4 linked regions of the Homo sapiens genome follow. The protein of the gene in region 1 interacts with the protein of each later gene in a pairwise test. Each region holds a gene or a part of one and is shown on either strand. Other genes may lie near its edges. The genes, in order: CEP70, MAB21L2, TRIM42 and ZFP91.

Region 1 (7,756 bases):
AGCACCAACTTGACACCACAAGTAGAAAATTCCACACCTGACCTTATGTGACAGGTCACAGTCACAACTTCATTTCATGCATAAAACTATTAAAAATGTATAAAATTAGCTTCAGGCTGTGTGTATAAGCTGTATATGAAACAATAAATGAATTTTGTGTTTAGAGTTACCCAACTCTAAACAAGATACCTCATGTATATACAAATATTCCAATTTTTTTTTTAATCTAAAAGTCCAAAACATAGTTCCAAGCATTGCAGGTAAGGGATACTCAACCTGCAGAGCTCTGTAGCCAGACTGCCTGGGTTCAAATCATGGATTCTGCCACACAGCCAGGAGAGTACAGTACTAATCTCTGTGTGCTTCAATTTCCTCATCATAAAATAAGGATAATAAAAGTACTCAGCTCACGAGTTAAAGATTAGAAGAGTTAATATAGAAAGAACATAAAGCATTGTCTGGCACACAGCAGGATGGAGACTGTGATTAGAGTTGGTGATCAGCTTTCTGTGTTATCTTAAGTAGGTATTTAACCTCTCTGAGCTTCAGCTTCTTTGCTGAGTTGTAAAATATCTACCTGATAGGATTATCAGGAAGTCAAAAGGAAATATATGTAATGAACCTAGTATAGTACTCAATAAATATTAGATTTTTTTCCATGGCCTCCCAACATCTGGAGTCATCCGTTACATTAGACATACCTCAGTCATAGCATATTACTCTTGCACTTTACACCTGGTCATTCAGGTTGATCTCAATGAAATGATCACCCAACGAGTCTCATGTCTGAAACTGGATCTTCATCTAGGTTTCAAAAAGATAAAAAGAACAAAATCTTGAAATGTTCAACCTCCTAGTAAGAATGGTCTTGTGTTACTCCCAGAGCAGGCATCCAAGGTACTGGTAATCACAGATAAAGCAGGCACAACTGAAATAACTGCTAATGGCCTTCCCAGCTCACCATCATATGCCTCTTCCCTTCTCTTCTCTCTCCTTCTTATCTTTCCTCTCCCTACCTTGTTAAGACATTTAGCTGGGTATCCAAATCTATCATCATCTATCATCAATTCTGACTTCTGGCTCCACAGGTAGGATATTCTCATTTGCAAGGATACTAAAATGAAGCATCCTCAGACAAACTACCACTGATCACAAAAGCAAACACAGGAACAAAACTACTCCTCATTTGCACCTGTGACCAAGCCCTCCTTTTCAGAGGACCATTCTGTGAAATAAACGGGCCAATAGTTTGCAGCAGCCTTTTCCCCACTACAGGCTGTGACAGGACAAAGGTCTGGAACTTTAAAGTCACAGGAAGAGACCAAATGCTTTCTAGGGCCAAAACAGAAGCTACAGCTTTAATTACTGTCATAACACACTTAAAATAAGATTGTTGGGGGTAGGAGTCGGGGGGTAGGAGTCGGAGGGTAGGAGTTGATTTGTACATGGCATAGTAAGCCAAGCATAGAAAAGCAAAAACATAATTGCATCTTCTGGCACTTTCTAGGTTTCCCGAGTCTTTCAGCCAAATTGCCCTTTATAGGTCTGAAGCCCCTTGTAACATGCTCCATATCTTAAAATTTAATTATTTTTTTCACCATTTGGGGTGGGGGAGGGGAGCTGACAATAAACCATGGCCAATAACTGTTCCTTCTCAACTGAATCACACCAAAATCTGTAAGCATCTTCAAAAGTATATACTTCAAATTACTGCAATAAATGAACATGTAACCCTTTCGAAGTCTCTATTCCTTATTAAATGCAAAAGCTCTATTCTAAAAATATTGCAACTTGCTGTTTAATGTTCCTAAGAAAGAGCTGAACTTACCCCAAATAGGAAAGAGTTAAAATGGAATGTCATCTCAACCAAATCATTCTGTCTCAGGAGAGGTGACATGAAGGGGCAGAACCTTGCTTTGAAGCAAAAGCTGTAGGGAAAACTCCAAGTCAGCCACCTCTTCCCCAAAAGGCGGGGCAGGGGAGGCCAGAGTCTACTTGGCAATATTTAAAGTACAAAACTCATGCAGAGGCTTGAAACCAATATGGGTAATGCCTGCACAGAGTTTAATATATTATACATATATTTTTGAGACAGAGTCTCGCTCCGTCACCCAGGCTGGAGTGCAGTGGCGCGATCTCGGCTCACAGCAACCTCCGCCTCCCGAGTTCAAGCGATTCTGCTGCCTCACCCGCCCGAGTAGCTGGGATTACAGGCGCACACCACCATGCCCAGCTAATTTTTGTATTTTTAGTAGAGACGTGGTTTCATCATGTTGGCCAGGGTGGTCTCGAACTCCTGACCTCAGGGGATCCGCCCACCTCGGCCTCCCAAAGTGCTGAGATTACAGGCGTAAGCCACTGCGCCCTGCCTGTTTAATATCATTGATTGAAAAACAAAGTGGCAGTAAAAAAGGAAACTCTGATTGGTCTCTCTGTTACAGGTGACTTAGCCTTCTGGCATTTTTCACCTTGAAAAACTCCTATTAGGCCCTGTATAAAGTCAGAGGTCTCCTGAATCCGGAATGAGGTTAATAAACTGGAGAAAGAGATACTCACCTGTGCTATTCGCCTAACCGCCCCCTTCTGCTCCGAGTCCTCACTCCCCAAACAACCTTCGCGGTTGTTTGACACAAAACTAGCGCTTCAGCCCGGGTCGATTTTGGGGGATGGAGTAATTACCTACAGCTTAAATCGAGTCTGTGCCCGACGTGATTCTAAGCTTTACTCTTACTGCCTCATTTAACCCTCACAACCACCTTGTAAGGCAAGAATTACCAGCTTTAGTATACAAATAAAGAATCGGAGGCGCTGAGACATTAAAGGAGAAGCCAAAGAACACAAAGCCTGGGGAGCTGGGACTGGAGGCAGTTTTGTCCGATCCCCAAACCCTTACGCAGGGATTTTTAATTGGCGCGACCCTGTCCCAGATGGCTCCTCCCCGACAAGGGTCAGTCTGACCACTTTTAGGCCCAGGTGAGGTCAAGTCCGGGGTACTCCGGGAAGGGGCTCACGCCGACGCCTCTGAGAGCCCCGAGAGCCACTCACCTTACTCAGTCGCCGGCCTCCCACCAGCAGCCAGCCGGGCCAGGTTAGGCTGGGATCAGCTACGTCAGGCCCCGCCTCCGCGACCGTTACCACCGCCGGGGGAGGGCGGCCAATCGAGCCCGAGCGCGTCGAGGGCCAGCCCCTCTTTGGCCTGCGAATGCCCCCAAACGATTCTCTCCAGCCTCTCCGGGAAGCTGGGTCCGCCCCGCTCCCTCCGGTTGGCTCACTACGGGGGGCGGGGCTTACCGCAAACGAAGGCGTCGGTGCGATGTGCTGGTCTCGGGCACGCTGGCGCTTCCAACGCACTCCTTGGGTGCCCTGTCACTTACATGGAGGCTTATTTGCCCGGAAGACGTCAGAAATACTTGTGGCCGTGGGTGAAAGTGAAGCCTGGGTTACCTGGCCACCAGAGACTGCCCTCTCTCTCGCCCCCTACCCCGCCGCGACTACGAGCCCTTGCTGGGGTACGGGTCAGCATGTTCTCGATGTTCCAGACCTGAATGACCACTGTAGCAGCTGACATTTGGAGGACCCCAATAAATATTTGTTGACGACAGTTCATCTTCCCATTCAGCATTTTCCACATCTCGACGAAGCGTCAGGCCCTACCTGAGGCTGTAGCTGTCCACCATTGTCATTGTATCTTATAGCCACATGGTGTCGCTGTTGACAACTTGTCTTTTCAAATCAGTCAAATGATGTAGGTCTGTGTTACAGTCAAATGTTGCAACAGACTGTGTTGCAGTCAAATGATGCAGGTCCCACAGTAGCCAACAGGGATGTCCCATCTAGGGCATCAGCCAAGGGTCTCTCATCAGGAGATCCAAGGGCTCTTGGAGCTCAATACTTTCAGACCCTTCTTAGCCTTCTTCCAGGCAGCTGGGACTACACTTAGGTTTGATCTCTGTGTTTGCCCCATGCAAACATGTCCCTACCCCAACCTACGCCTACCCACTGTGCTTTCCATACCTGGATATTCACTCTAACGACGGTTAGCAGATTGCATTTTCAGTTCTCAAAATGCAAATAGTCTCAGTGCTTCCCTTTTCCAAGATAATAGGGTGCCCTTGCATACTCTTCTGAGAATGGCTGCCCTAATTGTAGAGGCCAAACATCTTTGAGTCAGTTATTATTATTTTGGATGCACGTGATATAGAATCTGAGTTAAACTGTCTTCCTAAAAAATAAAGAAGTTGCTTATCTCGCATAACAGAAAGCTCAGAGGCAAGGGAGACTTTGATTAATTCAGTGGCTAAGCAAGTTAACAAGGACCCAGTTGCTATTAGTCTCTGCTTTGTTGTAAAAAAAAAAAAGGGTAGACTTCAAATTCATACTAACGTGATTTTCCAGATGTCTACTTGGAGAAATCAGGACCACATACTTTCTTTTTCATCTAAAACCTTTCCTTCTGGTTTTTTGAGCCAATAAGTTCACACAGGCACACACTCTTCCTCTTTACCAGTAACTGCCTGGGAAATGTACAGACAGCTTAAGCCTGGGTTCCAGAAGTGAAAAGGAGCTATGACAATTGGAATTGGCAATGGTGTCAGTGCTCTTTGAGTCACATGAGTTGCAAGGTGGAGACATGGCTATTTGAATAAAACTGGAGACCTGTAAAGGAGAAGAGGAAAATGGATGCTAGATGGATGATCACCAGTATCTTTCACAGTCTTCAAAGCACAAGAAGGCTGATTCCTCTCTATTTTCTAACTGAATTTTTTATGTGGTGAATGGAGGGGAAGAGTTGCTATAGCACTGCCCTCCAAAACAATTCCCTTCTTATGGACCATGAAAGCCTTTCCAGCACCTCTCTTTGCTAGAGAAGGAAAACATCCCTGCACACAAACTTAGTCTTTCACTGAGAATCCTGCTACATTGGTCTCAAGAGTTTTCTATGGGCCTCATCTACCCAATAGAATTCTAATAATTCTAAACATTCATTTAACATTCATTCATTTATAAAAATGTGTTGGCCGGGCACAGTGGCTCACGCCTGTAATCCCAGCACTTTGGGAGGCCAAGGTAGGTGGATCACCTGAGGTCAGGAGTTCGACAACAGCCTAGCCAACATGGGGAAACCCCATCTCTACTAAAAATACAAAATTGGCCGGGTGTGGTGGCACATGCCTGTAATCCCAGCTACTTAGGAGGCTGAGGCAGGAGAATCGCTTGAACCCGGGAGGCGGAGGTTGCGGTGAGCCGAGATCTCACCATTGCACTCTAGCCTGGGCAACAAGAGCAAAACTCCGTCTCAAAAAAAAAAAAATTTTTTTGTTAAGCACCTGTTTTGTACCAGGGATTGAACTAGATGCTGAGTCAGATTTATAAGTGGGGGAGTTTACAATAGTAAGTAAGCCCAGTTGTGATTCCTGCCTTCGTGGATCTTATAGTCTAACTGCGGAGAAAATATGAAACAAATGCAATTAAGTATATATTATTAATATAATAAGTGATATCAAAGAAGAGAAGAGGGGCTATGGAGGAAGCCTCTCTGATGAAGTGACACTTAAGTTGAAAGCCAAGCATGTCTTCATTTCGGCTTTCTGCTTTCCTCTGTACTTTGGCTTCCTAGCATAAATTATAACTTTCATTAGCAGTTAAAACACATCTTTTATTTCTCAACTTCTTTTTTTTTTTTTTGAGACGGGAGTCTCGCTCTTGCCCAGGCTATAGTGCAGTGGCGTGATCGTGGCTCACTGCAAGCTCCACCCCCCAGTTCACGCCATTCTCCTGCCTCAGCCTCCCGAGTAGCTGTGACTACAGGCGCCTGCCACCACGCCTGGCTAATTTTTTTTTTTTTTTGGTATTTTTAGGGGTTTCACTGTGTTAGCCAGGATGGTATCAATCTCTTGACCTTGTGATCCACCTGCTTCGGCCTCCCAAAGTGCTGGGATTACAGGCGTGAGCCACTGCACCCGGCCTAATTTCTCAACTTCTAAACTGATTCTCAAATTTTCTTCTGGGTATAGAACTGTCATATTTCTCCCTAGAAAAACATGAGTATATCATATGTAATGGTAATCATGATGAATTCTCAAAGATTCTTCAACTCATAAGTTTTTTAGACTTAGATTCCTTTATTACATGAATACATTTGTTTCTGCCTTTTCCACAAGAATTTGAACCCCTGGGAACATGAACCATGTCTTACTAAACTTCATCCTGCAGCTAGCATATTTCCTTGGTGCACAGTAGGTGCTAAACACAGCTTTGAACTGTAGCAGGACTAACCACAGACAAAACCTCTCAGACGCTGAGTTGTATAAGGAAGGGCTTTATTCAGCTGGGAGCATCAGCAAGCTACTGCCTTAAAATCCGAGCTCCCTGAGTGCACAATGTCTGTCCCTTTTAAGGGCTCACAACACTAAAGATTTCACATGAAAGGGTTGTGATTGATTTGAGCAAGCAGGGGGTATGTGACAGGGACTGCATGTACTGGTGGTCAGAGAGAAACAGAACAGGGCAGGGAGTTTCACAATGTTCTTCTATACAATGTCTGGAATCTATGAATAACATCGGTTTCTAAGTTATGAGTTGATTTTTAACTACTGGGTTTAGGCCAGGCAGGCCCAGGCCTGGTTTCGGGCCAGGCGCCGGGCTGCCTGTCTTTGGTTTTACTTCCTTGTTGTTTTTTCTTAAAACAGGTACTGAGTATAAAACAATATAAAATAATATGAGAGGGTCTTTCTCTTCTTTCAGAACTACATTGTTAAATTTGAGTCAAATTTATTCAGAGCATTCACCTTCAGTAGTCATTTTCCAATGTGAAGGACAATATGCAAACAGCTGAGGCAAATATATTAATGACAAATGCTCAATAATCCATACAGAATAACAATAGTTATGTTAATTGGGCACTTAAAATGTGCTAGGCTCCGAGCTAAGCACTTTCATTTTCTAACTTGTTGAATCTTCGCAACAACCTTAATATAAGTACTGTTATTATCTGTTTTACAAATGAGCAAGTTAGGAAATAGAAGCCAAAAAAATTTTGAAATGATTTGCCACGGTCACACACTAGTATATGGCAAAGCCAGGATCTGAACCTAGGCATTCAGGCTCCAAAGCCTATGTCATTAACCACTTGACCATACCACTTCTTGTGACAGACATCTGCTTTACCATCAGATTGGTATATGCATTTATTACAATTTGCAATTATTTACTGTGTATTAGTTATTGCTAATGTCTGTGTATTAGTTATCTATTGGTACATAAAAATTACCCTAAAACATAGCAGCTTAAAATAAACATTTATCATCACAATGTTTCTGTGGGTCAGGAATACAGTAGGGCTTAGCTGGATGGTCTGGACAAGATCTTTCATGGGGTTTCAGTCAACCTTTTGGTCTGGGCTACTGTCATCTCAAGGTTCAGGTGGGGCTAAAGGATTCACATTCAAACTCACTCATGCGGCTATTGGCAAGCCTCAGTTCATTCCTCCTCAAGTGGGCCTTTCCCCAGGCTGCCTTAGTGTCCTCATAACATGGCAGCTTCCCACAGAGTACACAGCCCAAAGACAGCATGTGAGCAACTAAAACAGAAACCGCAGTCTTTTTTATAACCTAATCTCAGAAGTTACATATCACTACTTCTGCCATATGCTATTGGTCACATAGACCAACCGTGGTAAAATGTGAGAGGACTACACAAGGAGATGAATACCATGAAGTGGGGATCCCTGGGGCCCATCTTGAAGAATGGCTACCAC
Region 2 (7,904 bases), on another chromosome or scaffold:
TAAAGTAACAAATGCACTGACGTTAACTCAGTAAATACATTTTTAAGTAAAGATCAGCAAAAAATAAAACAGTTTAAGAATTTTGTATTCTCTGGAAACATAAACAGGATTATAACTGTCAGATTACAGAAGCACTGACTTCAGCCATTAGTTTGGTTTGGCTCCTGAGAAACACAACATGAACTACTGCATCATTTCTTTTCAAATCCATACATTCCCTGCAGCCGTTCAAGCTTCATCAGCAGTGCAGGAATGTATAAAAATGACAGGCAAAGGGCATTAGGTTTTTTTACTTCCATACTGTTTTCCTATAAATGGAAGACAGGATTCTTTCTCAAAGCACTTAAGCTCAAGCTCAGTCAATGCTGAAGGAAAAATACAACTGAATTCTCTATGCAAGAAAGTATCACAATTGGATTATTTACTACTTTTCAAGGACATGTTGATAAATCTAATACTGTATTATTATCTTAGAATAAAACATTGTAAGGTTAGCATTCTAGCTTAATTACCCATTATTCTTCAATTAGAAATATTTTCACTTTTTAAAGTACTCTGTCAACTCATCACCTTATTTTAACACCAAGTATTCAGTTTTGCTTCTAATTTTAATTATAAAAATTTCCTTAAAATATGCCAATTTTTTTTGAAAATATATTTGTATAAATAGTTAATTTTTTATTTCCAAGTTTCTGTACTCATAAAGGTTTCGGTGAAATAGGAAATTCCATTAATAATTAAAAGTTTATTTAACCATGATAAGTAAAAATAGGATGTAATGAGTAATCTGGTTATTTGACTGGACCTTAAACATTCACATTGCTATAAAACTAGTACCGTAATTACTACAACCTGACTCAATTTTTTGAAGAAACTGGGAAATTTTCAGACTAAAGTTTTAAACATCCTCATATTTTAGTTTATAGTAACTAAAAACATGCCCACTTCAGTACTATCACCTACATTCTTTATGTTCCTAATGTAATGATGCAAGAGGTAAAGCCTAGAGAAGTCTGAAGGTTACGGACTACCTGATATCCAAAACAAAAAATTCAGATCACACCCTGAATGTCCTCCTTCCCTTTTTAGGAATGTCCTGCAGCTAGCCCAGCACCACAGCTCTGGGCTGAAGCATGCCAATGTTGGCACTGCCTAAGCCAAACAAACAAGATGTTTAACAGTCAAATAAAATGTCCTGCAGCCTCCCTAATGAATTTGTCAAGGACCATCAGATTTCGCACCCCCTCCTTTGCCTCATTAACTCAAGTATGATGAGACGGATTATAACAAGAGAATACAGATGAATCGGTCTGAAGACTTGAAGTGGCTTTTAGCCTCTAGAGTTTCTTTCTCTCACTTGGTCTCCTTTAATAGAATATAGTATCTCCTGCAGAAGGAGCTGCCAGTTCGTTTTAATACACCATCAAGGAGCTGCTGATGGACTTCTATACTAACATACATAAAAGCAGAGGTGACAGGGGCTCTTCAATTACAGCCTCCTCGGATACCGTTTCCCCCTTCAATTATTCAACCAGAGGAAGAGAGGACCGCAAAGGCGCAGCTGAAGCTGCTCTTAGAGCAGAGGCAGCCAGAGTGAGTTGGGGTGGGGGAGGGGGGAGAAAGAGAACCAGCAAGAGGGAGCATTATTTGCTGGAAGTGTTTAAGTTTATTGCTCGAATGATGTTTCTAATTAGTACCACGGCCATAAATTAAAGTCGCCTTTGTTTAACTGATTTATTATTTACTAGAGCATCTACCTAAGACAGGGTAAATTGGTAATGAATTGTTTTTAAATCAAAACATTTGTAACGTTTTATCATCCTTCCCTCTGTATGTAAAAGTGGAGAAGCGTAGGGGCAAGGATGCGAGAAAACTTAGCCGAGCTTGACAGAGCCGCCAGTGGAGGTGCAGCGGAGTGTCCGGCGAGTGGTGGCGCGAAGGTCCGCTCGGCCTGGGACGCCCCACCCGAGAGAAGAGGAGAAGGCGCAGGACTTGCGGCGCGGCGGCGGAGCCATGCGAACCAACTCCGCCACCCCTGAGGCTGTTTGCAAACACTCACTCTCGGGAGCGTCGCGGGCCGGGCCATTCGCGAACCAGACGCAACGACGAAGCGACCACCTCGAGAGTGGGGCGGGAAAGCTCCGCACCCTCTATCCCCGCCACCAGTCTCCGCCCAGTAACTGCCCCCGGAGAAGCAACCACGGAGCCCCTCCCGGCCAGTCGCGCTCTCCCGGCAGCGCAGTGCCCTCCGGCCCAGGCAGTTCCCAGAGCGCCGGCAAGGCCTCCCGGGTTAGAGCCGGGCTCCCACAGGCGCGAACTCCGAGGGCGCGAGGTCCCCTAGATCCTTAGGCGGCGAGGCGTTCCGGGACGCACGCGGCCTCCCCGGAGAAGGCTGGAGGTCAAGCAGCCCAAGTCTCTGCCACTCCAGAGAAGTTAACTAAAGCTCTGGAGTCCAAGAGTCGCGCGGACACTTAATTCTGACTCTTCTTCCTAATCGCGGGAAGACAAACCCTAAGCAACAAATCCGAGATAGTTTTTTTTTAAGCAAATATTCCTTAGAAAGGGACTTATGGCAACGAGAGAGGAAGGGTGACAAACTGCCTGTGGTCCGCACCAGGTATGTAAGAAAGAACCAAGAGGCCCAATTGTCTGATACCAAGTAGATAGAAAGAAATTAACTTCCCTATGCAATTCAATTCAGGTTCACCCGGCCGGACTTTAAGAGGGTAAGTCAAGCCCTCCCAAGGGGTTTTGAAAAAGCCGAACTACCAGGTTTCTAAAACGAAGTCTTCACCCAAATGGACGCATAGATTTTTATTTTTATCGCATAACCCAGGGCTGGAATATAACCTCCCAAATCAAACTAAAAATAATCACATCTACCTGAAATACGTTAAAAAGATTCAGAATCCAGACATCTTAGGTTCATACATAAACCCTCAGTATCAAGCAAATCAGAAACAATGTTCTAGCTTTTTTTTTCACCCAAAAGTATGGAAAGGCTACAGTGGGTACAACTCGTTTAGGATAATACATATACTAAAAGCACATGCATGCCTTTCATTGAAATGCCTAGGGAGGAGTGAAGCCATCTGTGTAATCAATAACAGGATAGTTATAGATTTTTGTGGCAGTGAAGTCTTTTAAAAGCAAGAGTCAATTATGAAAATAAAATCATTTTACAAATGAAACTCTGTACCTGTACCCCCTAAGAATACATTCACAATTAGATTTACAACAGTAAGATTTTAAGAAAACTTTAGGTTTACATTTACTTGCCTTGTTTTTCATTAAGTTTGAAGCAATTTTAGTAGCTTATTTTAAAAGTATATCCTACTAAGTTCTACGACATGTAAGTTTGCACCATTTCTCACAACTTAGATATTTTCTCTCTCGTAACTAGTTAATTCTTGTAACGATAAAATAATGGTATTAAATACATGTGAATCTTAATTATGAAATAATTATCAAACAAGGTGCTTGGACTAGTTTTTGCCCTGCCCTGTTTTTAAACAGCATATCGAAATTACTAAAAAGAGATTTATAAACCCTCACCTTATATCCACTCCAACCCTCACTGGTGCACATATACAGCAACTGCTCTGATTCTTGGCAACAATGGGAGGGGAGGGGAAGAGAAAGGAGGATGACTTTAAAGGAGGAAAAAACCTGGAAAAATTAGGTCCTTTCCCAGATTCCCCTTTCGCTTCCCATTTGCCTTCAAGCCAAAGTAATTTTGTTACAGTTTGCACCTTCTACTACACAATGTTGATAGAATCATTTAAAAAAAAAAAAAGTGAACCTTTCTGAACCATTGCTACTCTCCCTCGCGTTATTCCAGCCATCTCCAGGAGAGTCCCTTCTATATAAACTCTTTTTCTTCTTTGCTACTGATAAGAGAGGAGGATAAAGAGGAACGGCTGTAAAATGTGTGCAAGCATTTGACTCCCATTATCTCCTCCTATTTTCTTACTTCTCTCTTTACCCTGTTTCTTTATCAAGTGCAGTGGTGGCTGCTACCGTTCGCCAAGCGTGCCTGTCTTCTCTCTCGGATTGGCTAAAGCACTGACAGCTCGGATAGCGATTGTAGGAACTGAAGCTCCACCCCCTCATGATGGCCCTGGGACCATTCATAAACTAAATAACTCCAGGAAACAGCGAGGGAGAGAGAGAAAGAAAGAGAGAGGGAGAGAGAGAGACAGAGAGAGTTAGAGGAAAGAAGAGAGAGCGAGCACGAGGAAGGGGGGCGGGGGAGAGAAGCAGGGGGAGAGCGGGGCGAGAAAGAGGTCGGAGGGGAGAGGAGGGGGAGAGACGACTCAGAAAGTGGAATCTGTAAAAGCAAGCTAGAGGAGAAGAAGGAAAACCCTGAATCGTTATAACTACACCCCAGATGCAACGCAAGCAACGACTTCGTCACACTAAAACGGATTTTGTGAGGGCCAAAAGTATAAATTACGAAGCAGAAATGATTATCAAACAACTTCCAGCGGTTTGCACCTAAAGAAACACAAGGAGAACCCACTACAAACAAACAAACCCAGTCCAAACAACGCCTCCAGTAGGAAAAGAGGAAAACTGCGATAACACGACCCCCCGAGAAGAGACGAGACCAACACGCTGAGACTGTGGGGCGTCAGCAAACCTCCAAGTGCACGGCGGACTGAGTTGTACTTCGCAGCTCTCTGGACATTAATTACCTCCTGCACCTTCCATTTGGGGGAGGGTGAGGAAGAAGGCACTCACCTACACTGAGCGAAGAAGTCCTATCAGCGTGGAAGAGAAGTTTAAGAATGAACCACTGAATGTTTCGCTTTTATTTTTAAATTTACTTTGGCACTTAAAAAACCTCATTTCCAGATTTCTGGACAATCTCGGCTGCAGACATCTAAGCCTAACCTTTTGGTATCCTGAGTTTTTTCCCTCTCCTTCTCCTTCCTCACGCCCACCCCGCTTCTCTCGCACACGGTCATCTTTACATATCAAGAGAAAGCAAAAAGGTTCCAAGAGGTACTTTTCTTTTTAGAAAATCACCTTTTCTCCCCTAATTCTTCTGCAGAAGAAAAGAGGTTTCGAAAGAGGGAAAAGGAAAAAACAAGCCGGCTACGGTATCAGCCGGTCAGCCCAGGTGGAAAACGAGAGTGAAAGTAGGGCTTAACGGGGAGCGCACCGCCTCTTTCGAAAGCCGCTGGGCCACCACCAGTGCGTGAGCCTTGGATCCCTCAACGTATTGCGAGACGCCGGTGTATAGCCCGGACCTGTGCCCCAACATGATCGCCGCTCAGGCCAAGCTGGTTTACCAGCTCAATAAGTACTACACTGAGCGCTGTCAGGCGCGCAAGGCGGCCATCGCCAAAACCATCCGAGAGGTCTGTAAGGTGGTCTCGGACGTGCTCAAGGAAGTGGAGGTGCAGGAGCCTCGCTTCATCAGCTCCTTGAGCGAGATCGATGCCCGCTACGAGGGGCTCGAGGTCATTTCGCCCACCGAATTTGAGGTGGTGCTCTACCTAAACCAGATGGGCGTCTTCAACTTCGTGGACGACGGCTCGCTGCCCGGCTGCGCAGTGCTCAAACTGAGCGATGGGCGGAAGCGGAGCATGTCTCTCTGGGTCGAGTTCATCACGGCGTCGGGCTATCTCTCAGCGCGTAAGATCCGCTCGCGTTTCCAGACGCTGGTGGCCCAGGCGGTGGACAAGTGCAGCTATCGGGATGTGGTCAAGATGATCGCGGACACCAGCGAGGTCAAGTTGCGCATCAGGGAGCGCTATGTGGTGCAAATCACTCCGGCGTTCAAGTGCACCGGGATCTGGCCTCGCAGCGCGGCACAGTGGCCTATGCCCCACATCCCTTGGCCCGGCCCCAATCGGGTGGCCGAGGTCAAGGCCGAAGGGTTCAACTTGCTCTCGAAGGAGTGCTACTCGCTGACCGGCAAGCAGAGCTCGGCAGAGAGCGACGCCTGGGTGCTACAGTTCGGGGAGGCGGAGAACCGCCTGCTGATGGGCGGCTGCCGAAACAAGTGCCTCTCAGTGCTGAAGACTCTGCGGGACCGCCACCTGGAGCTACCCGGCCAGCCGCTCAACAACTACCACATGAAGACGCTGCTGCTGTACGAGTGCGAGAAACACCCACGAGAAACGGACTGGGACGAGTCGTGCCTGGGCGACCGGCTCAACGGCATCCTGCTGCAGCTCATCTCCTGCCTGCAGTGCCGCCGCTGCCCTCACTACTTTCTGCCCAACCTCGACCTCTTTCAGGGCAAGCCCCATTCGGCCCTGGAGAGCGCTGCCAAGCAGACCTGGAGGTTGGCCAGGGAAATTCTCACCAATCCCAAAAGCCTGGACAAACTATAGGGTGCTGGGGACTGCTTGAAAAGCGACACAAACGGGCGTGCTCTCTCAGACACACAACTCTGCTATAAACAGCAGAAACTCTGGACACAAACTTTTATGTAAGTCACCTGAAATAGGAATCCGGCAGAAGACCTTCATTAATTAAGAAGCAAACAAAAAGAGAGCAACCCAACCAAAACAAATCACATTCTTGCACAAAAGTGATCGTTTTCTTCCAAACAATGTGAATTTAAAAGGTCACACAAAAGAAGCAATCGGGCTCCGCCACCACAAAATGAAACCCAAGGTACATTTTCAAATCAATGTATAGTAGTTCCCCCCCCTTTTCCTTCTTTCCCCCTATCCTTTTTCTCTCCACCCCATCCCCCCCCCCATTTCGTTTTGCTTTTGGTTGCCTGAATGTTGTCACCAAGTGAAAAAATTATTTAACTATATGTAAAATTTCTCTTTTAAAAAAAAGTTTTACTGATGTTAAACGTTCTCAGTGCCAATGTCAGACTGTGCTCCTCCCTCTCCTGAACCTCTACCCTCACCCTGAGCTGTCTTGTTGAAAACAGTAATAAAAACATTACTTTACATTGTAATTGACTGTTTGTGGATTGTTCTTAAGTGAAGGCAGGTGAGATCACAGTTTATAATTTCCAATGTAAAGATGTGACGAGGAATCAAATGCAAGAAGCTTCCACTTGAACTGATTTGCAAAATTTTAAATACAGTACATTTTGTAGAATTGACTGTATAAGTTCCGACCCAAATCCTTAGAAAATAGAAAACACTAATTTTACTCAACTATAATATATATTTGTTCTGTAGATGTTAAGATTAAAAGTAACATCTACTTCACGCTTGGGAAAAAAGTATGAAAGAAAATATTTTGATCCTAATTTTTAAAATAGAAAAAACTTTTTCACATTAAAAATTAAGAGATGTGCTTTCTTATGCCATAATTTCAAAAAATCCAATCTGAATCCGATATACAAAGGAAATATTTATGGATTTTTCTGAATAGTTAACAAAGTCAGTTGATACTTTTCCTTCAACCGTTTGTCCTCTTCAAGCTTTGAGTGATAAAAATTTAACAATTAAATAAACCACAACAAAAAATACAATGGTTATAGCAATAATCCTCTCCCCAAGCATATGGTGATATGAACCATTCAGATTTATAAATTACTTCCATTTTAAAATGGCTTAGTTGTAAATTCCATAAGTATGATTATTTTAATCAAATTTCAAGAATTATTCTGAAACTGCTTATATGCAATTCAAACAAAAAAGGTTTTCATACCATTTTTATAACCAAAGAAAAATTATTATTCCAGGATTTAGAAATAGGAAAAGTACCTTCCTCCTCTTTCTGTTTTTCTAAGGTAACAAACCAATATACTCATTTCAATGTTTCAGCTTTAACAAAGGTTTCTTTTTAATGCAAGGGAATAACTGATTAGAAAATAATATAATTAGTCAAACAGAAAGTATCCCAAAGGAATTGGTTTGTCTTGCTTATGTTGAAGGTAACTATATACTCCATTCGCTATGCTAATGATGAGACACAGG
Region 3 (7,727 bases), 2.1 Mb from region 1:
TTGTGGTAGACAGAATAATGGACCCCAGAGATGTCCATGTCCCAATCCCAGAACCTTTGAATATGTTAGGTTACACACATAGCAAAGGGGAATTAAGGTTGCTAGTCAGCTGGTCTTTTTTTATTTTTTTGACATGGAGTCTCACTCTGTCACCCAGGCTGGAGTGCAGTGGCTTGATCTTGGCCCACTGCAACCTCTGCCTCCCAGACTTAAGCGAGTCTCGTGCCTCAGCCTCCCAAGTAGCTGGGATGACAAGCGCACACCACCACACCCAGCTGACTTTTTTTTAATTTTTAGTAGAGACAGGATTTTGCCATGTTGCCCAGTCTGGTCTCAAACTCCTGGCTTCAAGAGATTCTCCTCCCTCAGCCTCCCAAAGTGGTGGGATTACAGGTGTGAGCCACTGCACCTGGCCCAGCTGGTCTTCAGGTAGGGAGACTAGCCTGAATTATCAGGTGGGCTCAAAGCAGTCACAAGGGACCTTCAAGGTGGAAGATGGAGGTGGAACAGAACCAGAGAGATGCTAGTGTGAAAACTCAGCCCAATGTTGCTGGCTTTGAAGATTCAGGAAGGGGCATGAGGCAAGGAATGCGGGTGGCTTCTAGAAGCTGGAAAAAGCAAGGAAATGTATTCTCCCTCAGGCCCTTCAGAAGGAATGCAATATGGCTGACACAGATTTTACCCAGTGAGACCCATTTGGACTTCTTCAGAATTGTAAGGAAATAAATAATTTGTATTATTTAAACTACTAATTTGTTACAACAACAATAGGAAACTAATACACAGATAGGCAGTTAGATTTGTCATGGGAAGCTTTCATGGAAGTCAGCTGAGATATAAAGTCAGAGGGAGACAGTGAGTCAAAGTAAGGAGACTGTTTTCAGAAATGGGTATGATGGTCAACAGATATATTGAGGACCAGAGGAAGAGCAGGGGAAGAAACTGAGGTCAACACGTACATGACTTACCTAAAAACACATTTCTCTACCCTTCAAAAATATTAATTAGGCTCTTTGATGTTAGAAGCTTTCAGCTAGGGACCATGGGCACAGAAGGGTGTGTAAGACCAACACCTATCCTCATGGACCTGAGCCTAGTGGAGTTGGGACTTGAATCCAGGTACACAAGACCAAATACAATGCTCTTTTCAATGCGTAATCTTGACTTTCAAAAAATAAAAGTTCAGCTCTCCCTGCTGTTGGCTTTGACATCATTCTCCCAGAGTAAAGTACTATGTCCCCAGGGCTGAGCCTACCCTGTTCCAGACTTAGTTCCATTTGAGCATGGTGCAGGGGAACAAAGGACTGTGGGCTTGGATACAGACCAAGGTGTCCACTCAACTCATCCTTCTATGAGGCCTCATTTTTCTTATCTGTAAAATGGAAGACACTTTGCTTCTTACAGCCTCATTTTTCTTATCTGTAAAATGGAAGCAATCACTTCCTCCTTTCCCAGTGGTTGGGATGATTAGTGATAATGAATATACCCCATCTGACATAAAAATGACCTTCAAATGGGACCTTTCAAAATCATTAAAGTTAATTTTCTTGCTGCATGTATTACACACCAAATAAATCTCTTAAAAATCAAGTCCTAGACTATGCAAATAAAATATAAAAGGTGTTATTTCACTTTTTAAAACAAAAATACGTGTGATAGAAATATTGCATTTTGGATAAGAAATGATCCTGCTGCCTCATTGCAACATTTTAAGTGAAACCTTTCAGGAATACCTGCATAGAACTGATGCCAAGGAAAAAATTTTGATTTTATAGGTAAGAAATGAAGTCATTACTTTTATGAAACTTTATAAATGTCATTCAAACACACATCTTATTTTCATTTGGTATTGAAGGCTTTACTTATGCAAATCATGACAAATGTTAAGGAAACCAGTGTTTCCTCTGGAATGCTAATATAACCACAAAGAAGGGAGGAAGAATTACTTCTGAAGGAAAAATCTATATTGCAGCTCCTCAAGTCAGATAAAAATGAAGCTTTCAGAAAACCTCATTAATTAGGGCTCTGCTCATTTAGATATTGTGTTAAAAAGAAAGGGACTGGAATGCATTTCCTTCTCTTACAGGGAGGGCAAATTAATCACATAAACACAATTTCAAGGGAAATGCTATTTTTTGACTGTATAAAACACTTAACAGCTTTCAGGCATCTTACGGTACTTTGTAATTATTAATTTTATCAATTTATTTCTTCACTCTTTAATTTAGACATTCCTTATTTGTTCATTTATTTGGTCACATTTTCACTCATATACTCATTCAATAACTATTAAGAACCAGCTATATGCAAAGTGCTGTGGTAAGCACTGTGGGAGAAAGAACCATGAATTAGATGTGAATTTTATTCTCAAGGAGTCCATAATTTCAGAAGGGCAACAAAAGCCTCTACCTAAGAAAAGCCAAGAGGGACTGAGATGGTAGACTGATGACATACTTTGGTATCTCCACCCGTTCTTTCCCTGGCATCTGAAAATAATAGATTACATATATTTTAGCAACAGTACTGAGTGCCCTTCATGGGCAAGACAGTTTTGAGGAATTCCTAAAAACTGAGAAGGCAGATGAGATTAGATGGAAGGAAAAATCCATAGTCAAGAGACATGCGGATGTGGGGCAGCCACGGGCATTCCATGCTCTGAAGAGAAGGGTATCAAGAATGAGAAGGGCTTTGGGGCAACTGAGCAGCAGTGTAATTGGCTGGAGGCTGGCAGGAGGAGTGGCTAGCAGGCTTCCCCATCTCACATCCTTCCTGTGCCAGGTTTGACCTCTCTCTCTCTCTCTCTCTATCTCTCTCTGTGTGTGTGTGTGTGTGTGTGTGTGTGTGTGTATGTGTATGTGTGTGTGTGTCCATGGGTGCTGGACTCTATGAGGTAAAGCATGTCCCCCTGGGGCTGGCAACCAGGATGAGTGGTCCCACCCTAGGAGATTTGCTATTGGTATACTGACCACCCTTACTCCTGCTTTGCCTTTATTACTAGAGGTAGCAACCACTCGGATTCTTTTCCTCGAACATTTTACTAAGGAAACAGAGTATGGTTGGTCAGATGCTGTTGGGCATTGGAGCTTTAAGGTCACACAGGGGTTGGGCCATGACAATTCAAAACCATATACAAGCTGAATTTAAGGGAGCAGAAACTAAGGGCTAGCCAAAAATGGTGCAGATCCAGAGAGAAGCAAAGAGAATGAGAGAGTGAGAGAGAGAAGGAAGCAGGGAGAGAGGAAGAGAAGAGAAAGAGGGAGAGGGAGAGAAACTGATGACTCTCCAGTTCCCTTGGGTATCAGATCAGATGCATATCCTAGAAGTGGTCTCATGAGACTTCCTGTATCTTTGTCATAAATTTCTCTTTTCAAAAGCTGAAATGAATGGACTTTTTTTTTTTCTTCTTCTTCTAAAGAATTCCTGATTAAGATGTAATCGACCCTGATTCCAAAGAACACCCTTATGGTTATATGGTAAGATAGCAGCTCTAGGCAGTCTTGGTATTTTTATTCTCTTTCTCCTTTTAATATCAATAAAATTATACTCATGAATGTGTATTCCCTGGAGATATAAAGAAGAGTAAGTCTTGGATCACAAAGAAGATAGGAATAACTTTGTCCTTTCTTTTTTGGAAGGCACACTGACCTGCTTAGTGGCAGTTTCTCGACTTTCAGATGAACAATTGTTTTTAGTATAAATAGGTTCTAAATATTGCACTGGACATATTTTATAAAAATTATTGTGTGCCAGAAATTCAAATTTAACTGGGCATCCTGTATTTTCATTAGTTAAATCTGGCACCCCATCCTTGCCTGGGAATAGCACCTCATTTTTATCTTTCTCGTACCACAATTATTTCATGTCCTTCTCACACAACAATTATTTGTTTACTAGACCCTGAGCACCTTGAAGGCAGGGATTATGTTTATTTTCCTCTGAATCTCTACATCTGTACACAATGCCTAGAACAAATGTTTTTGAATCAAATAGAACAATTCTCAGGCGACATCTGCAAAGTCTGGTTGAGGCCAGCAGCCCTCTCTTTGGCCTCAAGTTAACAAATGTTCTGTGCTTAGAGGAAGAGTCCCATAGTGAGTTCTATAATCTCACGATCATCTTAACAGGGCCTCATCCAGAACCTACCATAGAAAAAAAAATCTGTCTGAGAAATAACGCACACAATACCTTGCAGATATCACTCCATTGCCCAGGACCATTATCATTGATGGCTCTAACTTTAAACACGTATTCTGTGTTGGGGGTCAGGTTGTGCAGCTCCAGATTTTGCTGCATTATGTCCCGAATTTGTCCACAGAGCTCCATTTGTACGTTGTTAGGAGGAGAAGTAATGACTTCATAGAATTCCATCTCAAAAGAGTCCACGTCTTCTGCTGGACATGTCCAGTAAACCTATGGAAGAAATGAACATACTGGTGTGGTACTAGTATACATCATTCAGCTTTCTTTCCCTTAAAGATTTGTGATGTTGACTATCTGTGGGGTGAGTTTAAGCTGACCCCATCCCCTGTAGCTACCGAAGACTTTTAATTAGACCATGCACAAGTCTTGGAAGACTGTGTGATGAGGCCTGGCATGATGGTTGTAATGAGTTTCACAAACAGAAGGTTTCCGTTCTGTTACTGTCAGTCGACATGGAGGTGACAATTGTCCTCCTGCTTGAAAAATACCGAAAAATAGAGGGGAAGAAAATAAACATCACTCATAATATCACAATTCAGTTAATTCATTATTATTTCTTTGCAATTTCAGAACACACACACACATACAAACATATATATATATATATATATATATATATATATATATATATATATATATATATATACATAAAAACTTGGATTAAGTAGCTTTGATTTCTATTTTCTTTTACTTATGTTGTATGTTTTCCTAAATCATTAAAAATTCAGTAAACTACCATCTTTGAAATTTCTCCCAAAATAATTTAATCCTTCTATTGTTGAACATTTATGTTGTTTCTAATTTTATACTCTAATAAATAAATGCTGTAATAAATACTGTTGGGCATAAATATTTGTCTGAATTTTTAATAATTTTCTTGGAAGAGATTCCTAGAACTAAAACTGAGTTTAAAAAATCTCTATGATATTAACAATACATATTGAAAAGGTACAACACTAAGTTTCAGAATATTTTCTATGCTAAAATCCTAAAGATTTGAGAGTGATGTTAACATAAACTTAATCTTCTGCATTGCTAAGCACTATGATTCCTGTATGAAGTCCATTCCATTATCCTAAAATATGAATCGATGATATTTTAAAATCAAATATCACTGTCTGGCAGTAGGTTTAGGTGTCCTCTTTCGACAGCAAATGACTTGACTGAGTTGTTTTGCGTAGGTCTCTTTTTTGAGCTCATCAGGGATGACTAATAGGTGGCATGGGGTGACTATTTTCCATGCCCAGGTATAGAGCAGATACTAGCAATCCTCTGACTCCAGAGCAAGATCCTGCCAACTTCTCAAGAGGTCTCAGTTGGTCAAGGAGATGAGACCCAGTGCTATACTTGAGGTAATAAGCATACACGATAGGCCTTGCTGATCTAGTATCAATTGGAAATGTAGTTCAGCTGCTCAGTTATGGGCATTGCTTATGTGAAGGGCAGAAACACTTCATCATGTCGATAGCTCATGGAGTGTTCTAACTTGCAAAGTATGGGTTGTTCTTTGTGTTAATTATAGACAATAAAACATAGATTGTGATGCGTCAGGAGAATGGAAAAGTAAATCTTGGTCTGTATCTGGCCTTCATTTGTTAGATCCTTAATACTAAAGTGTAGTCTGTAGACAGCAGCATTGGCAGTACCTGGAAGTTTGTGAGAACCAGAATCTCAGGCCCCTTTGAAACCTACTAAAATAGAATCTGCATTTTAACAAGATCCCCAGGTGCACATCAATGTTTGAGAACTCAAGGATCTGAAAGTCTTTGGGAGTGTTCTCAGATTATGGGAGACAAAATATGAGCTCTGCCACATGGGAGCAGGCCATGGGTTGACTGTAGGAAAAATCCAAGAGGAGGAAAGAGGCACTCTAATAGAATATTTAGTTGCATGTTAATTTTTTTCCTCCATAAACCTTAATAAAGTGTTCTACAAACAATTCCGTGTGGGTTCAGCTAGATTTGAAAGGTATGTTAAAGAAAAGCCCATTTGTTCATGTTGTCCATGTTAGGTCAAGAGGGTCAAAGGGAAGTCATGTCCCTTGAGGCCAGGCAATGGCACTTACAGAGGTCTGTGACAGACCCCACTCTTCACTCTCTCCCTTCAAGGCGGGTTGAATCTCAGAAGAGTTGAAATTTCATTGGGGATGATCCTCCCAATTTTTCCAAATCATAGAGATTCTGGATATTTGCTTTAGGAAAGGCAGCAATTTAACGGAAACAGCTGATAGGTAATGGAGCCTGCATTTCTAAGTACAATTTCTGTGCTGTCTCTATTACAGGCTTTCCTTTGGGAAACATTACACTGCCAAGTAGTGTCTTCAAATTACTTTGGTTCCCAAATTGGGTTCTCTTTCAGTTGAGAAGCTGCCTTTGCAGTGGAGGTAGGGCTTTCAGATATATTTACGATTATGAGTTAAATATATTGACTGTTTGGTTTAAGCTAATTTTGGGTTACTTAAGATTCCAGGAGCTTATCCCTTTTGAATGGGATGACCACAAAGAGTCTAGAGGAGCAGATATGAGTGACCAGATCCTAGAGGTCAAAGAGGTAAGTGCAACCTTTCCTGACTACTCACTTCTACTCTGTGCCCCACACCCTCCCACTTCCCCACTGGGCCCAGAACCTTTCTTACCTTGGCAGCTCTTGGGTACACCAGAGTCTGGTAGATAACAATTGGGCCTGGGGTCTTCACAGAGCCATCGTTGAATGAGTACCAGTTGTGGAAGCTGCTGCTGTTCTGTACAGACTGGCTGTCTGCTCCAGCACTCCAGTAGGTGTAGAGGCCGTCTGTGGGTTTGGCGGGGGTGGCTGACTGGGCTCTCCCACAGGCCTCCAGACCCACCTTGGCCTTCTTGTCAGTGTTGCTGAAGGACAACATGGAGGAGCTTCGCTGGTATATGTGCTGGTTGCCGAGGCTGTGGGTGCTGAAAGTGACCTTCCTGGCAATCATTGTTTCTGAGTGCACGGGGTAGGGGGAGGGCAGGGAGTCCCCTGAGGAGCGTACCTTCTTGGGCCCTGTGGGGAAGAGCTCATGGATGGCACTGGAAAGCTCAACAAAGTCCAAGGGCACGTAGTTTATTGAGTGCAGCCGGAGCTGTGGGTCAGGCCTGTAGGTGGTCTGGATGCCGTCCTCGATCTGGTCCACCAGGATCTTGGCTGACTGCAGGAATGCCACCTGGCCAGTCTCCTTCAGGGCTTCCTTGGAGTAGGCGATCAGACCATCCATCTCGTTCACTTTCATGGTTGTAACATACACATATTTTTCAATTTCCTTCTGCCTGGACACTTCTAGATTCTCTATCTGCTCCATGATGATCTTCTCTTTCTCCTGAAGAATGCTGCGCAACTTGAGAAAGCCATTTCTGATCTCTTTTCGCTTTGCCTCCTTGTCAGCTTTAAAGCTGTTTTTTAAGATGTTGAATTCCATTAGGTCATTATCAATTTCATATCGGACTGCAAAAATGCCAAGTTAGTTACTTTTAAAATTTTCATCTCCCCAGGTGTCAAAGTCAGTAGCAAACTAG
Region 4 (7,727 bases), on another chromosome or scaffold:
AAAATAATTTCAAATGGAAGCAACTTCTGAATCATTTACTGTGACTATGCTATGTCCCCAAAGGTTTAAAAATGAAATATTAATGTTTTTTTTACCTAATGCCACCTGGAGACTGATGCTCTTCTCCAACATCTAGAAAAACAAAGCCAAAAACAAAATTTTATTAGTGTAGATATAAGATATTTTCTCTCTGCAGTCAAGAAATGCAAATCAAATTACTGCATGGGGTAATTATACAAAAGCAGAATATCTGCAAACTGTTCAAAGAAATACCACCTACACCATCAAACCTGCCCCTGACAGTTAAGCTGTTAACACAAATGTTCAACATTACATTTAAAATGTAACAGCAACTAGTTAGTAAACAGCCATATTCTAGTTGCACTGTACCATAATCAAGTTGGTCTGTATTTGGTTCTGACTTGCAAATGAGCTGCAATGAACCGGTCTTGGACCGAGAGCTTCGGGTGTTCTCTGTATCACGATGGCGAGAAACAGATGTCCTACTACTACGCCAGCCCCGGCTAGGTCTAGATGCAGCAATGGAAACTTCCTGAGGGAGGGCAGAATCGTCTTCTTCCTCTTTTTCTTCCTTGGGATCTAAATAAAAAGACATACCATTCTCTTTAAGTTTACAGTTAACCAATAACCATCCCTGTATATCTACTAATTGTAAATACAGTTGAAGATAAATTAAATATTTTCAAAGGAAAAAAAACTGAAGACTTTAATTGAAATAATAAAAAAAGGAAAATGAGATAAAACTTATCCTTAATGTCATCATGCTAAAGAAATTACTTCATGTTGCAAAGTAGTAATTTTATACTGCCTTATCTTCTAAAAAATGCAATGCTAACTATGCAAAATACACTTAAGTAACTGGATTCATGAAATTCTACCTTTTAGATCTAAGTTAAAAGAAACTAAATTAATTAGTCCCAAAAAGATGACCAGAACTACAGAGGCACCAAAAAGAAAGAACCATAGATCTAGATGTTATTTACAACCAAACAAGTCTATAACAAATTACTAAAGAGGAATTCCTAACAGGAGTACTTTTCACTCTAATCAAGAGTTTTTCTTGGAACCACACCATAAATTTGAACTAATCTATAGAGCAATTGAATGGTAAAGTCCAGCTCTGGTGCTATTCTGTTTCAGTTGTCCTATAAGACATTGTGTACAGGAGCACACACAAATCTGTTATTGTTATCCTATATTTTGTCATGTTTTAAGGGTGAAGTACGGTAGGTCATCCTCTCTTGAGTAGTAAGTAATAAAAAGTTAATCTCAGAAACTGGCTTTCATACCTGGCGTAGCTAAATACTTAGACCTATATAAAAAAAAAGTACATTAGAATTGAGCCCATTTTAACAATAGAAGATTCTTTAATAAACTCAGAACGGGAAAGGCCCAATAATAAAACAAAATTTCAGGTCATAAGATACACATAAAAACAATTTTCCTCATGGCAAAAATCAACCATAAACAAAGTCTAATAACCCAATAGAAAAATAGGAACTAACAGGCCGGGCTCAGTGGCTCACACCTGTAATCCCAGCACTTTGAGTGGCCAAGGCGGGCAGATCAAAAGGTCAGGCGTTTGTGACCAGCCTGGCCAACGTGGTGAAACCCCGTCTCTACCAAAAATACAAAAGGTAGCCAGGCGTCGTGGTGCCTAACTGCAATCCCAGCTACTGGGGAGGCTGAGGCAGGAGAATCACTTGAACCCGGGAGGTGGAGGTTGCAGTGAGCTGAGACTGCGCCACTGCACTCCAGCCTCGGCGAAAGAGCAAGACTCCATTCCAAAAAAAGAAAAAACAAAAAACAAAAGCTCAAAGCTCAATCCACTCAGAACAAGAGACTCAAATGAAAACGATAGCATGACACCATTTTTCATGTATCATATTGGGGATGATCATATTTGACAACATAATGTATTGTCAAGACTGTGGGAAAACAGGTCCTCTAACACACATATGATAATGTATTAGCAAAACCTCCATGCAGACCAATTTGACAATATACATCAAAATTATAAATGTATATACCTTTCCACATGATGTTCAACTACTAGAAATTTATCCTACAAAATTACAATCATATTTATAAATGATTAACATATAGCACTGTTTTTAAGTAGTAGAAGAGTAGAAAACAACATTCAAAGAGGGATTGGTTTCACAAATAATTGTGTACATATGTAAGAGAGAGATATATATGTAAGATATATATACACACAAATATATAACTTATGAAACCAATCCCCCTTTGAATGTTTAGTTGTCTACTCTTCTACTACTTAAAAACAGTGCTACACATTAGTCATTACAGTATGTGTGTGTGTGTGTATATATATATATCTTACATACTATAATAACATTTCTGGAAGAAGTACAAGAAATTCTTAAGTACTGGTTACTTCCAAGGTAGGTCCAAAAATATGTGTAGTAATTTCACCTTTAAGTATATGCCCTAGAAATATAAACTACCACATGGAGGTTAACTGTATTATGTTTATAATAGCAAAGAACAGAAACAACCTAACCCTCTGTCAAAGATAAAGTGCTTAAATAAACCATGATACCTTAGTATGATTGAATACTATATAGAGGTAGGTTTATGTTAAAAATGACATGGAATTATCAGCAAAAATATTGTTAAATGTATAAAAAAGACACAAAACTATATATACAGTATGGCAACATTTTTGCTTAACATTAAAAAATAGTTTACTATGGAGCAATGTGGTGACTATAGGCTATTTTAGCTTTAATTACACTGAAAGTTTTATGACAATATACTGAAGTAATGAAATTAGTTTGAAACACAGAGATAAATAGCAGTGCGAACAGTTCTAAACAACCATCAAAATCAGTTGTGCATTTCCTTTCAGCTGTCTTTTTCCATTCATTATTGCATCACCCTCCTATCTGAGCTATTTTAATAGAAAAAATAAAAAATAAAACATTAATATAGGTGAAAATACCTCAAAGGCCATTCAGTCTAAGCACAATCCATTACGTTTTACCCATAAAGTATCTGGAAGCCCAAAAAAGAAGCTTATTCAAAATCACAAGGTTAGCTAAGGACACCTAGATTTAGAAATCATATTTTGAGATTAATAATGAAGGACTTTTACATATAGGTCATGACTACTTTTAAAACAATTTCATCAAAAAGAACAATTCAACACCACCTATGAAGTATTACAACATTTAATAATAGACACATCTTTTTTTTCCTTAACCCAACTGTACCGAGTTGGACTTTGAACTCACTCCATAACCTCCTGTCCTCAACAAAGCTCCTTTCTTCTTCATGATGAAAGGATGGTATGCCCACAACCTCCTATACTGTAGATTTTACTCACTGGATAAATGATGCCAATTTGATAACAATAGTTTACCATTATGAATAAGGCATAATAGCCTATCTTATTGAATACTACTGCTCCCGTCCCCTAAAAATCTAGTCTTAAAAAAAAACCACTCTGTCAGAGATGACAGCAAAAATGTCCCTCCACAGAAATAAACACATATCATGAACAAACACTGTCAGAATCAACTTTGTGGAAACTCTTAACAATAGTTAAAGGTTATAAAAGCCAAGTGAGCACTGAATCAAGAAAAAGGTGAGTAAAGATGTTTAAGGAAATCTGTCAAATCACTTGATGAATATAAGCGAAAGGACCAGAACCTTTAGAGACCACAGAGACCAAAGTAGGAGCTAAACATTAGGTACTCATGGACATAAAGATGGCAACAACAGAAACTGGAGATTATTGGGGGGAGGTTGAAAAACTATTGGGTACTATGCTCAGTACCTGCATGATGGGATCATTTGTATCCTAAATTTCATATCATACAATATGCCCCAGTAACAAACCTGCACATGTACCCCCGAATCTAAAATAAAAGTTGTAAAAAACAATGTTTAAAGAACTAAAGACAATCAGAGCTAAAGAAAATCACTGACAAAGTACTAAAGGAAATCAGAAGAAATATGTCTCGACAAATACAGAATACCAATAAAAAGATAACTATAAAAAGGAACCAAGAGAGGCCGGGTACAGTGGCTCACACCTGTAATCCCAGCACTCTGGAGGGCCAAGGTGGGCGGATCACCTGAGGTCAGGAGTTCGAGACCAGCCTGGCCAACATGGCAAAACCCCGTCTCTACTAAAAATACAAAAATTAGCTGGGCTGCTTGTAGCAGCGCATCCCTGTATTCTCAGCTACTTGGGAGGCTGAGGTAGGAGAATCACTTGAACCCAGGAGGTGGAGGGTGCAGTGAGCCGAGATAACACCATTGCACTCCAGCATAGGCGACAAGAGTGAAACCACACCCCCCCCACAAAAAAGGAACTAAGAGAAAAAAATTCTAGAGCTGAGAAGTATAATAACTGAAATTAAAAATTCACCGCAGACTTGAAAAACAAGAATCAGTGAACTTTAAGCTAGGCCAACAGAGATGATCCAGTATGAAGAATATAAAGAAAAAAAGAATAAAGGAAAATAAAGCCTAAGAGATCGTTTAGACAACCATTAAGCATGCCAACAGATGCATAATAAGATTTGCAGAAGGAGAGGAGAAAATGAACAGAAAGAATATTTGAAAAACTATTGGGGAATATAGTCTGTACAAACAAGAACTTTACCTAACTCCTAGTAGGATAAATGAAAGAGATCCCCACCTAGACACATTATTATCAATCGGTAGAAAGACAAATACAAAGAACCATAAAAACAGCAAGAAGTGACTCATAAGCAACAAGGAATACTCAACAAGATTAACAGCCGCTCATCAGAAACCATGGAAGTCAGAAGGCAGTGTGATAACAAAGTGATGAAAGGAAAAAAAAAAATCGTCAAGCAAGAATTCTATAGCTGCCGAAACTATTCTTTAAAAACGAAGATGAAATTAAGACATTACCAGAAAATCAAAAACAGATTATCACTAGTAGATCTGCCCTATAAAAAATGCTATCAGGAATCCTCTAAGATGAAATTAAAGGACACTAGAGAGCACTTAAAGCCATAAATTAAAACACTGGCATATTTTACAGAGGCAAAAATATGATATTGTACTTTTGATTTCTAACTCCTTTTTCTCCCTACATGATTTGAAAGACAAATGTACAAAATAGCAACTGTAAATTTATGTTAATGGGCATTTGACATCAAAACATACACTTTGCAACAATAACATAAATGGTGAGGCACAGAATAGTACAGAGCAGAGATATGTTTACTACTGAAGCTAAACTGGCATTAAACTAGATAAAGTTTAAAGTACTAAATGCAATCCCCAGGTAACCCCTAAGAAAATAAAAATATACAGAAAATGAAAAGAGAAGATGGTACACTGCTATATATCTGCAACACAAGGAAATACAAAGAAAATAAAGATCAAAATAAAAGATATTAAGACAGGTAGAAAACACAAAGCAAAATGGCAGGCCATTCTTATCGGTAGTTTACACATACATATAGTGTGGAATTAAAAGGTACATATTAGCAGAATGGATTAACAAAAAATACAACCAATCTACAATCTGTCTACAAGAAACTCACGTTAGACCTGGTTGTCCAATCTTTTGGCTTCCCTGGGCCACACTGGAAGGAGATGACATGTCTTGGGCCACACATAAAATACACTAATGATAGCTGATAAGATAAAAAAATTTAAAAAAGAACTCATAATGTGTTAAGAAAGTTTACGATTTTGTGTTGGGACACATTCAAAGCCGTTCTGAGCCGCATTCAGACTGCAGGCCATAGTGGACAAGTTTGCTTTAGATCCAAAGACACAAACAGGTTCAAAGTAAAAGAATGGATTAAGATATTACATGCGAATAGTAAGCAAGAGAGAGCTGAAATAATGTATTAGTCTACCAGGGCTGCTCTACCAATCACAACAAACTGGGATGTCTTAAAACAACAGAAATCTATTCTCCCATACTTCTGGAGGATAAAAGTCCAAAATCAACACAATAACAGACCACACTCCCTCTCAGACTCTGAGAAGAATCATTCCTTGCCTCTTCCTAGCTTTTGGTGGTGGTCAACAACTTGGCTTATAGCTGCTAACTTCAATTCTATCTCCATCATCACACGGTGTTTCCTCCTGTCCCATGTGTGATGTCCTTATTCTTATAAGGACATCAGTCATAGTGGATTAGGGCCCATTGTAATACAGAATAACTCCATTATAACTTGATTACATCTGCAAAGATCCTATTTCCAAATAAGTTCATATTTACAGGTATTAAGGGCTAGGACTCAACACATTTTTGGAGGGATAAAATTCAACCCGTAGTAGTCTGTACCTTCTGGTTCCCTAAAATTTATGTCCTTCCAATGTGCAAAATACATTCACCTAATCCCAACCTCCCAGAGTCTTAACCCATTCCAGTATCAAGTCTAAATCCAAACAATACCTAAAAATCATCAACTCAAAAGGGATCAAATCTCATCATCTAGATCAGTTATGAATGAGACTGGGGGTATGGTCCACTCTAGAGCAAAATTCTTCTCCATCTGTGGAGCTGATTCCAAAAAACAATGGTGGGACACTTATAGATTACACATCTCCATATCAAAAGGAAGAAAATAGAAGGGGGGAAAAAGGGTCAGGGGTCCCAAGTTAGTCCAAAACCTAGCGAAAAGCATTAGACTTTAAGCCCTAAGAATAAGCTTTTGTGGATAATGGTTTGTACTCTGAGTCCACTGGGGAAATAGCCCTGCCATCGTGGCCCCAGGAAGTCTAATACACCCAGGACCCAGCATTTGCAGCTCTACCCTCAGCATCATTCTTCTTTAATTCCATTCTGTCTCTGTCCCATTCAGGCCAGCCTGGCAGTGTTTCTGCTGTCACAACATTCTCAAAAACTTTGTCAGTCTTTCATGAAATTCAGGGGGTCGAAGCCACCAAATGAGAGTCCTCCACAGATCTTTCCTGAAAAATTGCATGTCTATTCTGGGAAGTGCTGAGATGGCTGATTCGATCCACAAGTTATATACCAAGTCTCTTTAGAGAATAGCTGTCCAGTCACAGCCTTGGTCCTGTACCACAATACACTATTTGGACAGACTAAAAAATTTTCAAATTATCAAGTGCTGGCTCCTTTTTGCTAAACAATTCATTCCTCAATTTATATCTTTCCTCTCACACATTAGTATATAAGCAAGAAGAAACAAGGCTATACCTTCTACACGTTGTTTGTAAATCTACTCAGATAAATATCCAAGTTCATTGCTTACCCAATGATAGAACACAATTCAGTCAAGTTCTCTGCAACTTTATAACAAGGATCACCTTTTCTCCACTGTCCAATAACATGTTCATCATTTCCTTCTAAGGCCTCATCAGACTGCCTTTAACACTCATATTTCTGTTGACCATCTCTTCAAGGCAATCTACGCTGTTTTTTCTTTTCTTTTTTTTTGAGACAGAGTTTCACTCTTGTTGCCCAGGCTGGAGTGCAACGGCGCAATCTTGGCTCACCGCAATCATCGCCTCCTAGGTTCAAGCAATTCTCCTGCCTCAGCCTCCCGAGTATAGCTGGGATTAGAGGCATGCACCATACCTCAAAATACTCAAAGCCAATATCCATTACCCAATCCCAAAGCTATGCCAACATTTTTAGGTACTTTTTCATAGCCCACTTCCAATACCAAAATGTATTAGTTTCCTAGGGCTGCCATAACAAATTACCACAAAAG

The links.
Region 2: the proteins of CEP70 (region 1) and MAB21L2 interact in binary tests that used the Homo sapiens proteins (3 or more experiments, as listed by UniProt).
Region 3: the proteins of CEP70 (region 1) and TRIM42 interact in binary tests that used the Homo sapiens proteins (3 or more experiments, as listed by UniProt).
Region 4: the proteins of CEP70 (region 1) and ZFP91 interact in binary tests that used the Homo sapiens proteins (3 or more experiments, as listed by UniProt).

Annotation. Positions count from the first base shown.
Region 1 is NC_000003.12:138,591,153-138,598,908, forward strand, and holds the start of CEP70 (centrosomal protein of 70 kDa), read right to left. Parts: upstream 3,109-7,756; 5' UTR 3,046-3,108; exon of another isoform or gene 2,557-3,045; intron 805-2,556; 5' UTR 711-804; coding exon of another isoform or gene 702-710; intron 1-701.
Region 2 is NC_000004.12:150,577,763-150,585,666, forward strand, and holds MAB21L2 (protein mab-21-like 2), read left to right. Parts: upstream 1-4,388; 5' UTR 4,389-5,267; coding exon 5,268-6,347; 3' UTR 6,348-6,931; downstream 6,932-7,904. UniProt on the Homo sapiens protein: Required for several aspects of embryonic development including normal development of the eye.
Region 3 is NC_000003.12:140,687,651-140,695,377, reverse strand, and holds part of TRIM42 (tripartite motif-containing protein 42), read right to left. Parts: intron 7,657-7,727; coding exon 6,836-7,656; intron 4,411-6,835; coding exon 4,186-4,410; intron 1-4,185.
Region 4 is NC_000011.10:58,602,703-58,610,429, reverse strand, and holds part of ZFP91 (E3 ubiquitin-protein ligase ZFP91), read right to left. Parts: intron 601-7,727; coding exon 391-600; intron 133-390; coding exon 96-132; intron 1-95. UniProt on the Homo sapiens protein: Atypical E3 ubiquitin-protein ligase that mediates 'Lys-63'-linked ubiquitination of MAP3K14/NIK, leading to stabilize and activate MAP3K14/NIK. It thereby acts as an activator of the non-canonical NF-kappa-B2/NFKB2 pathway.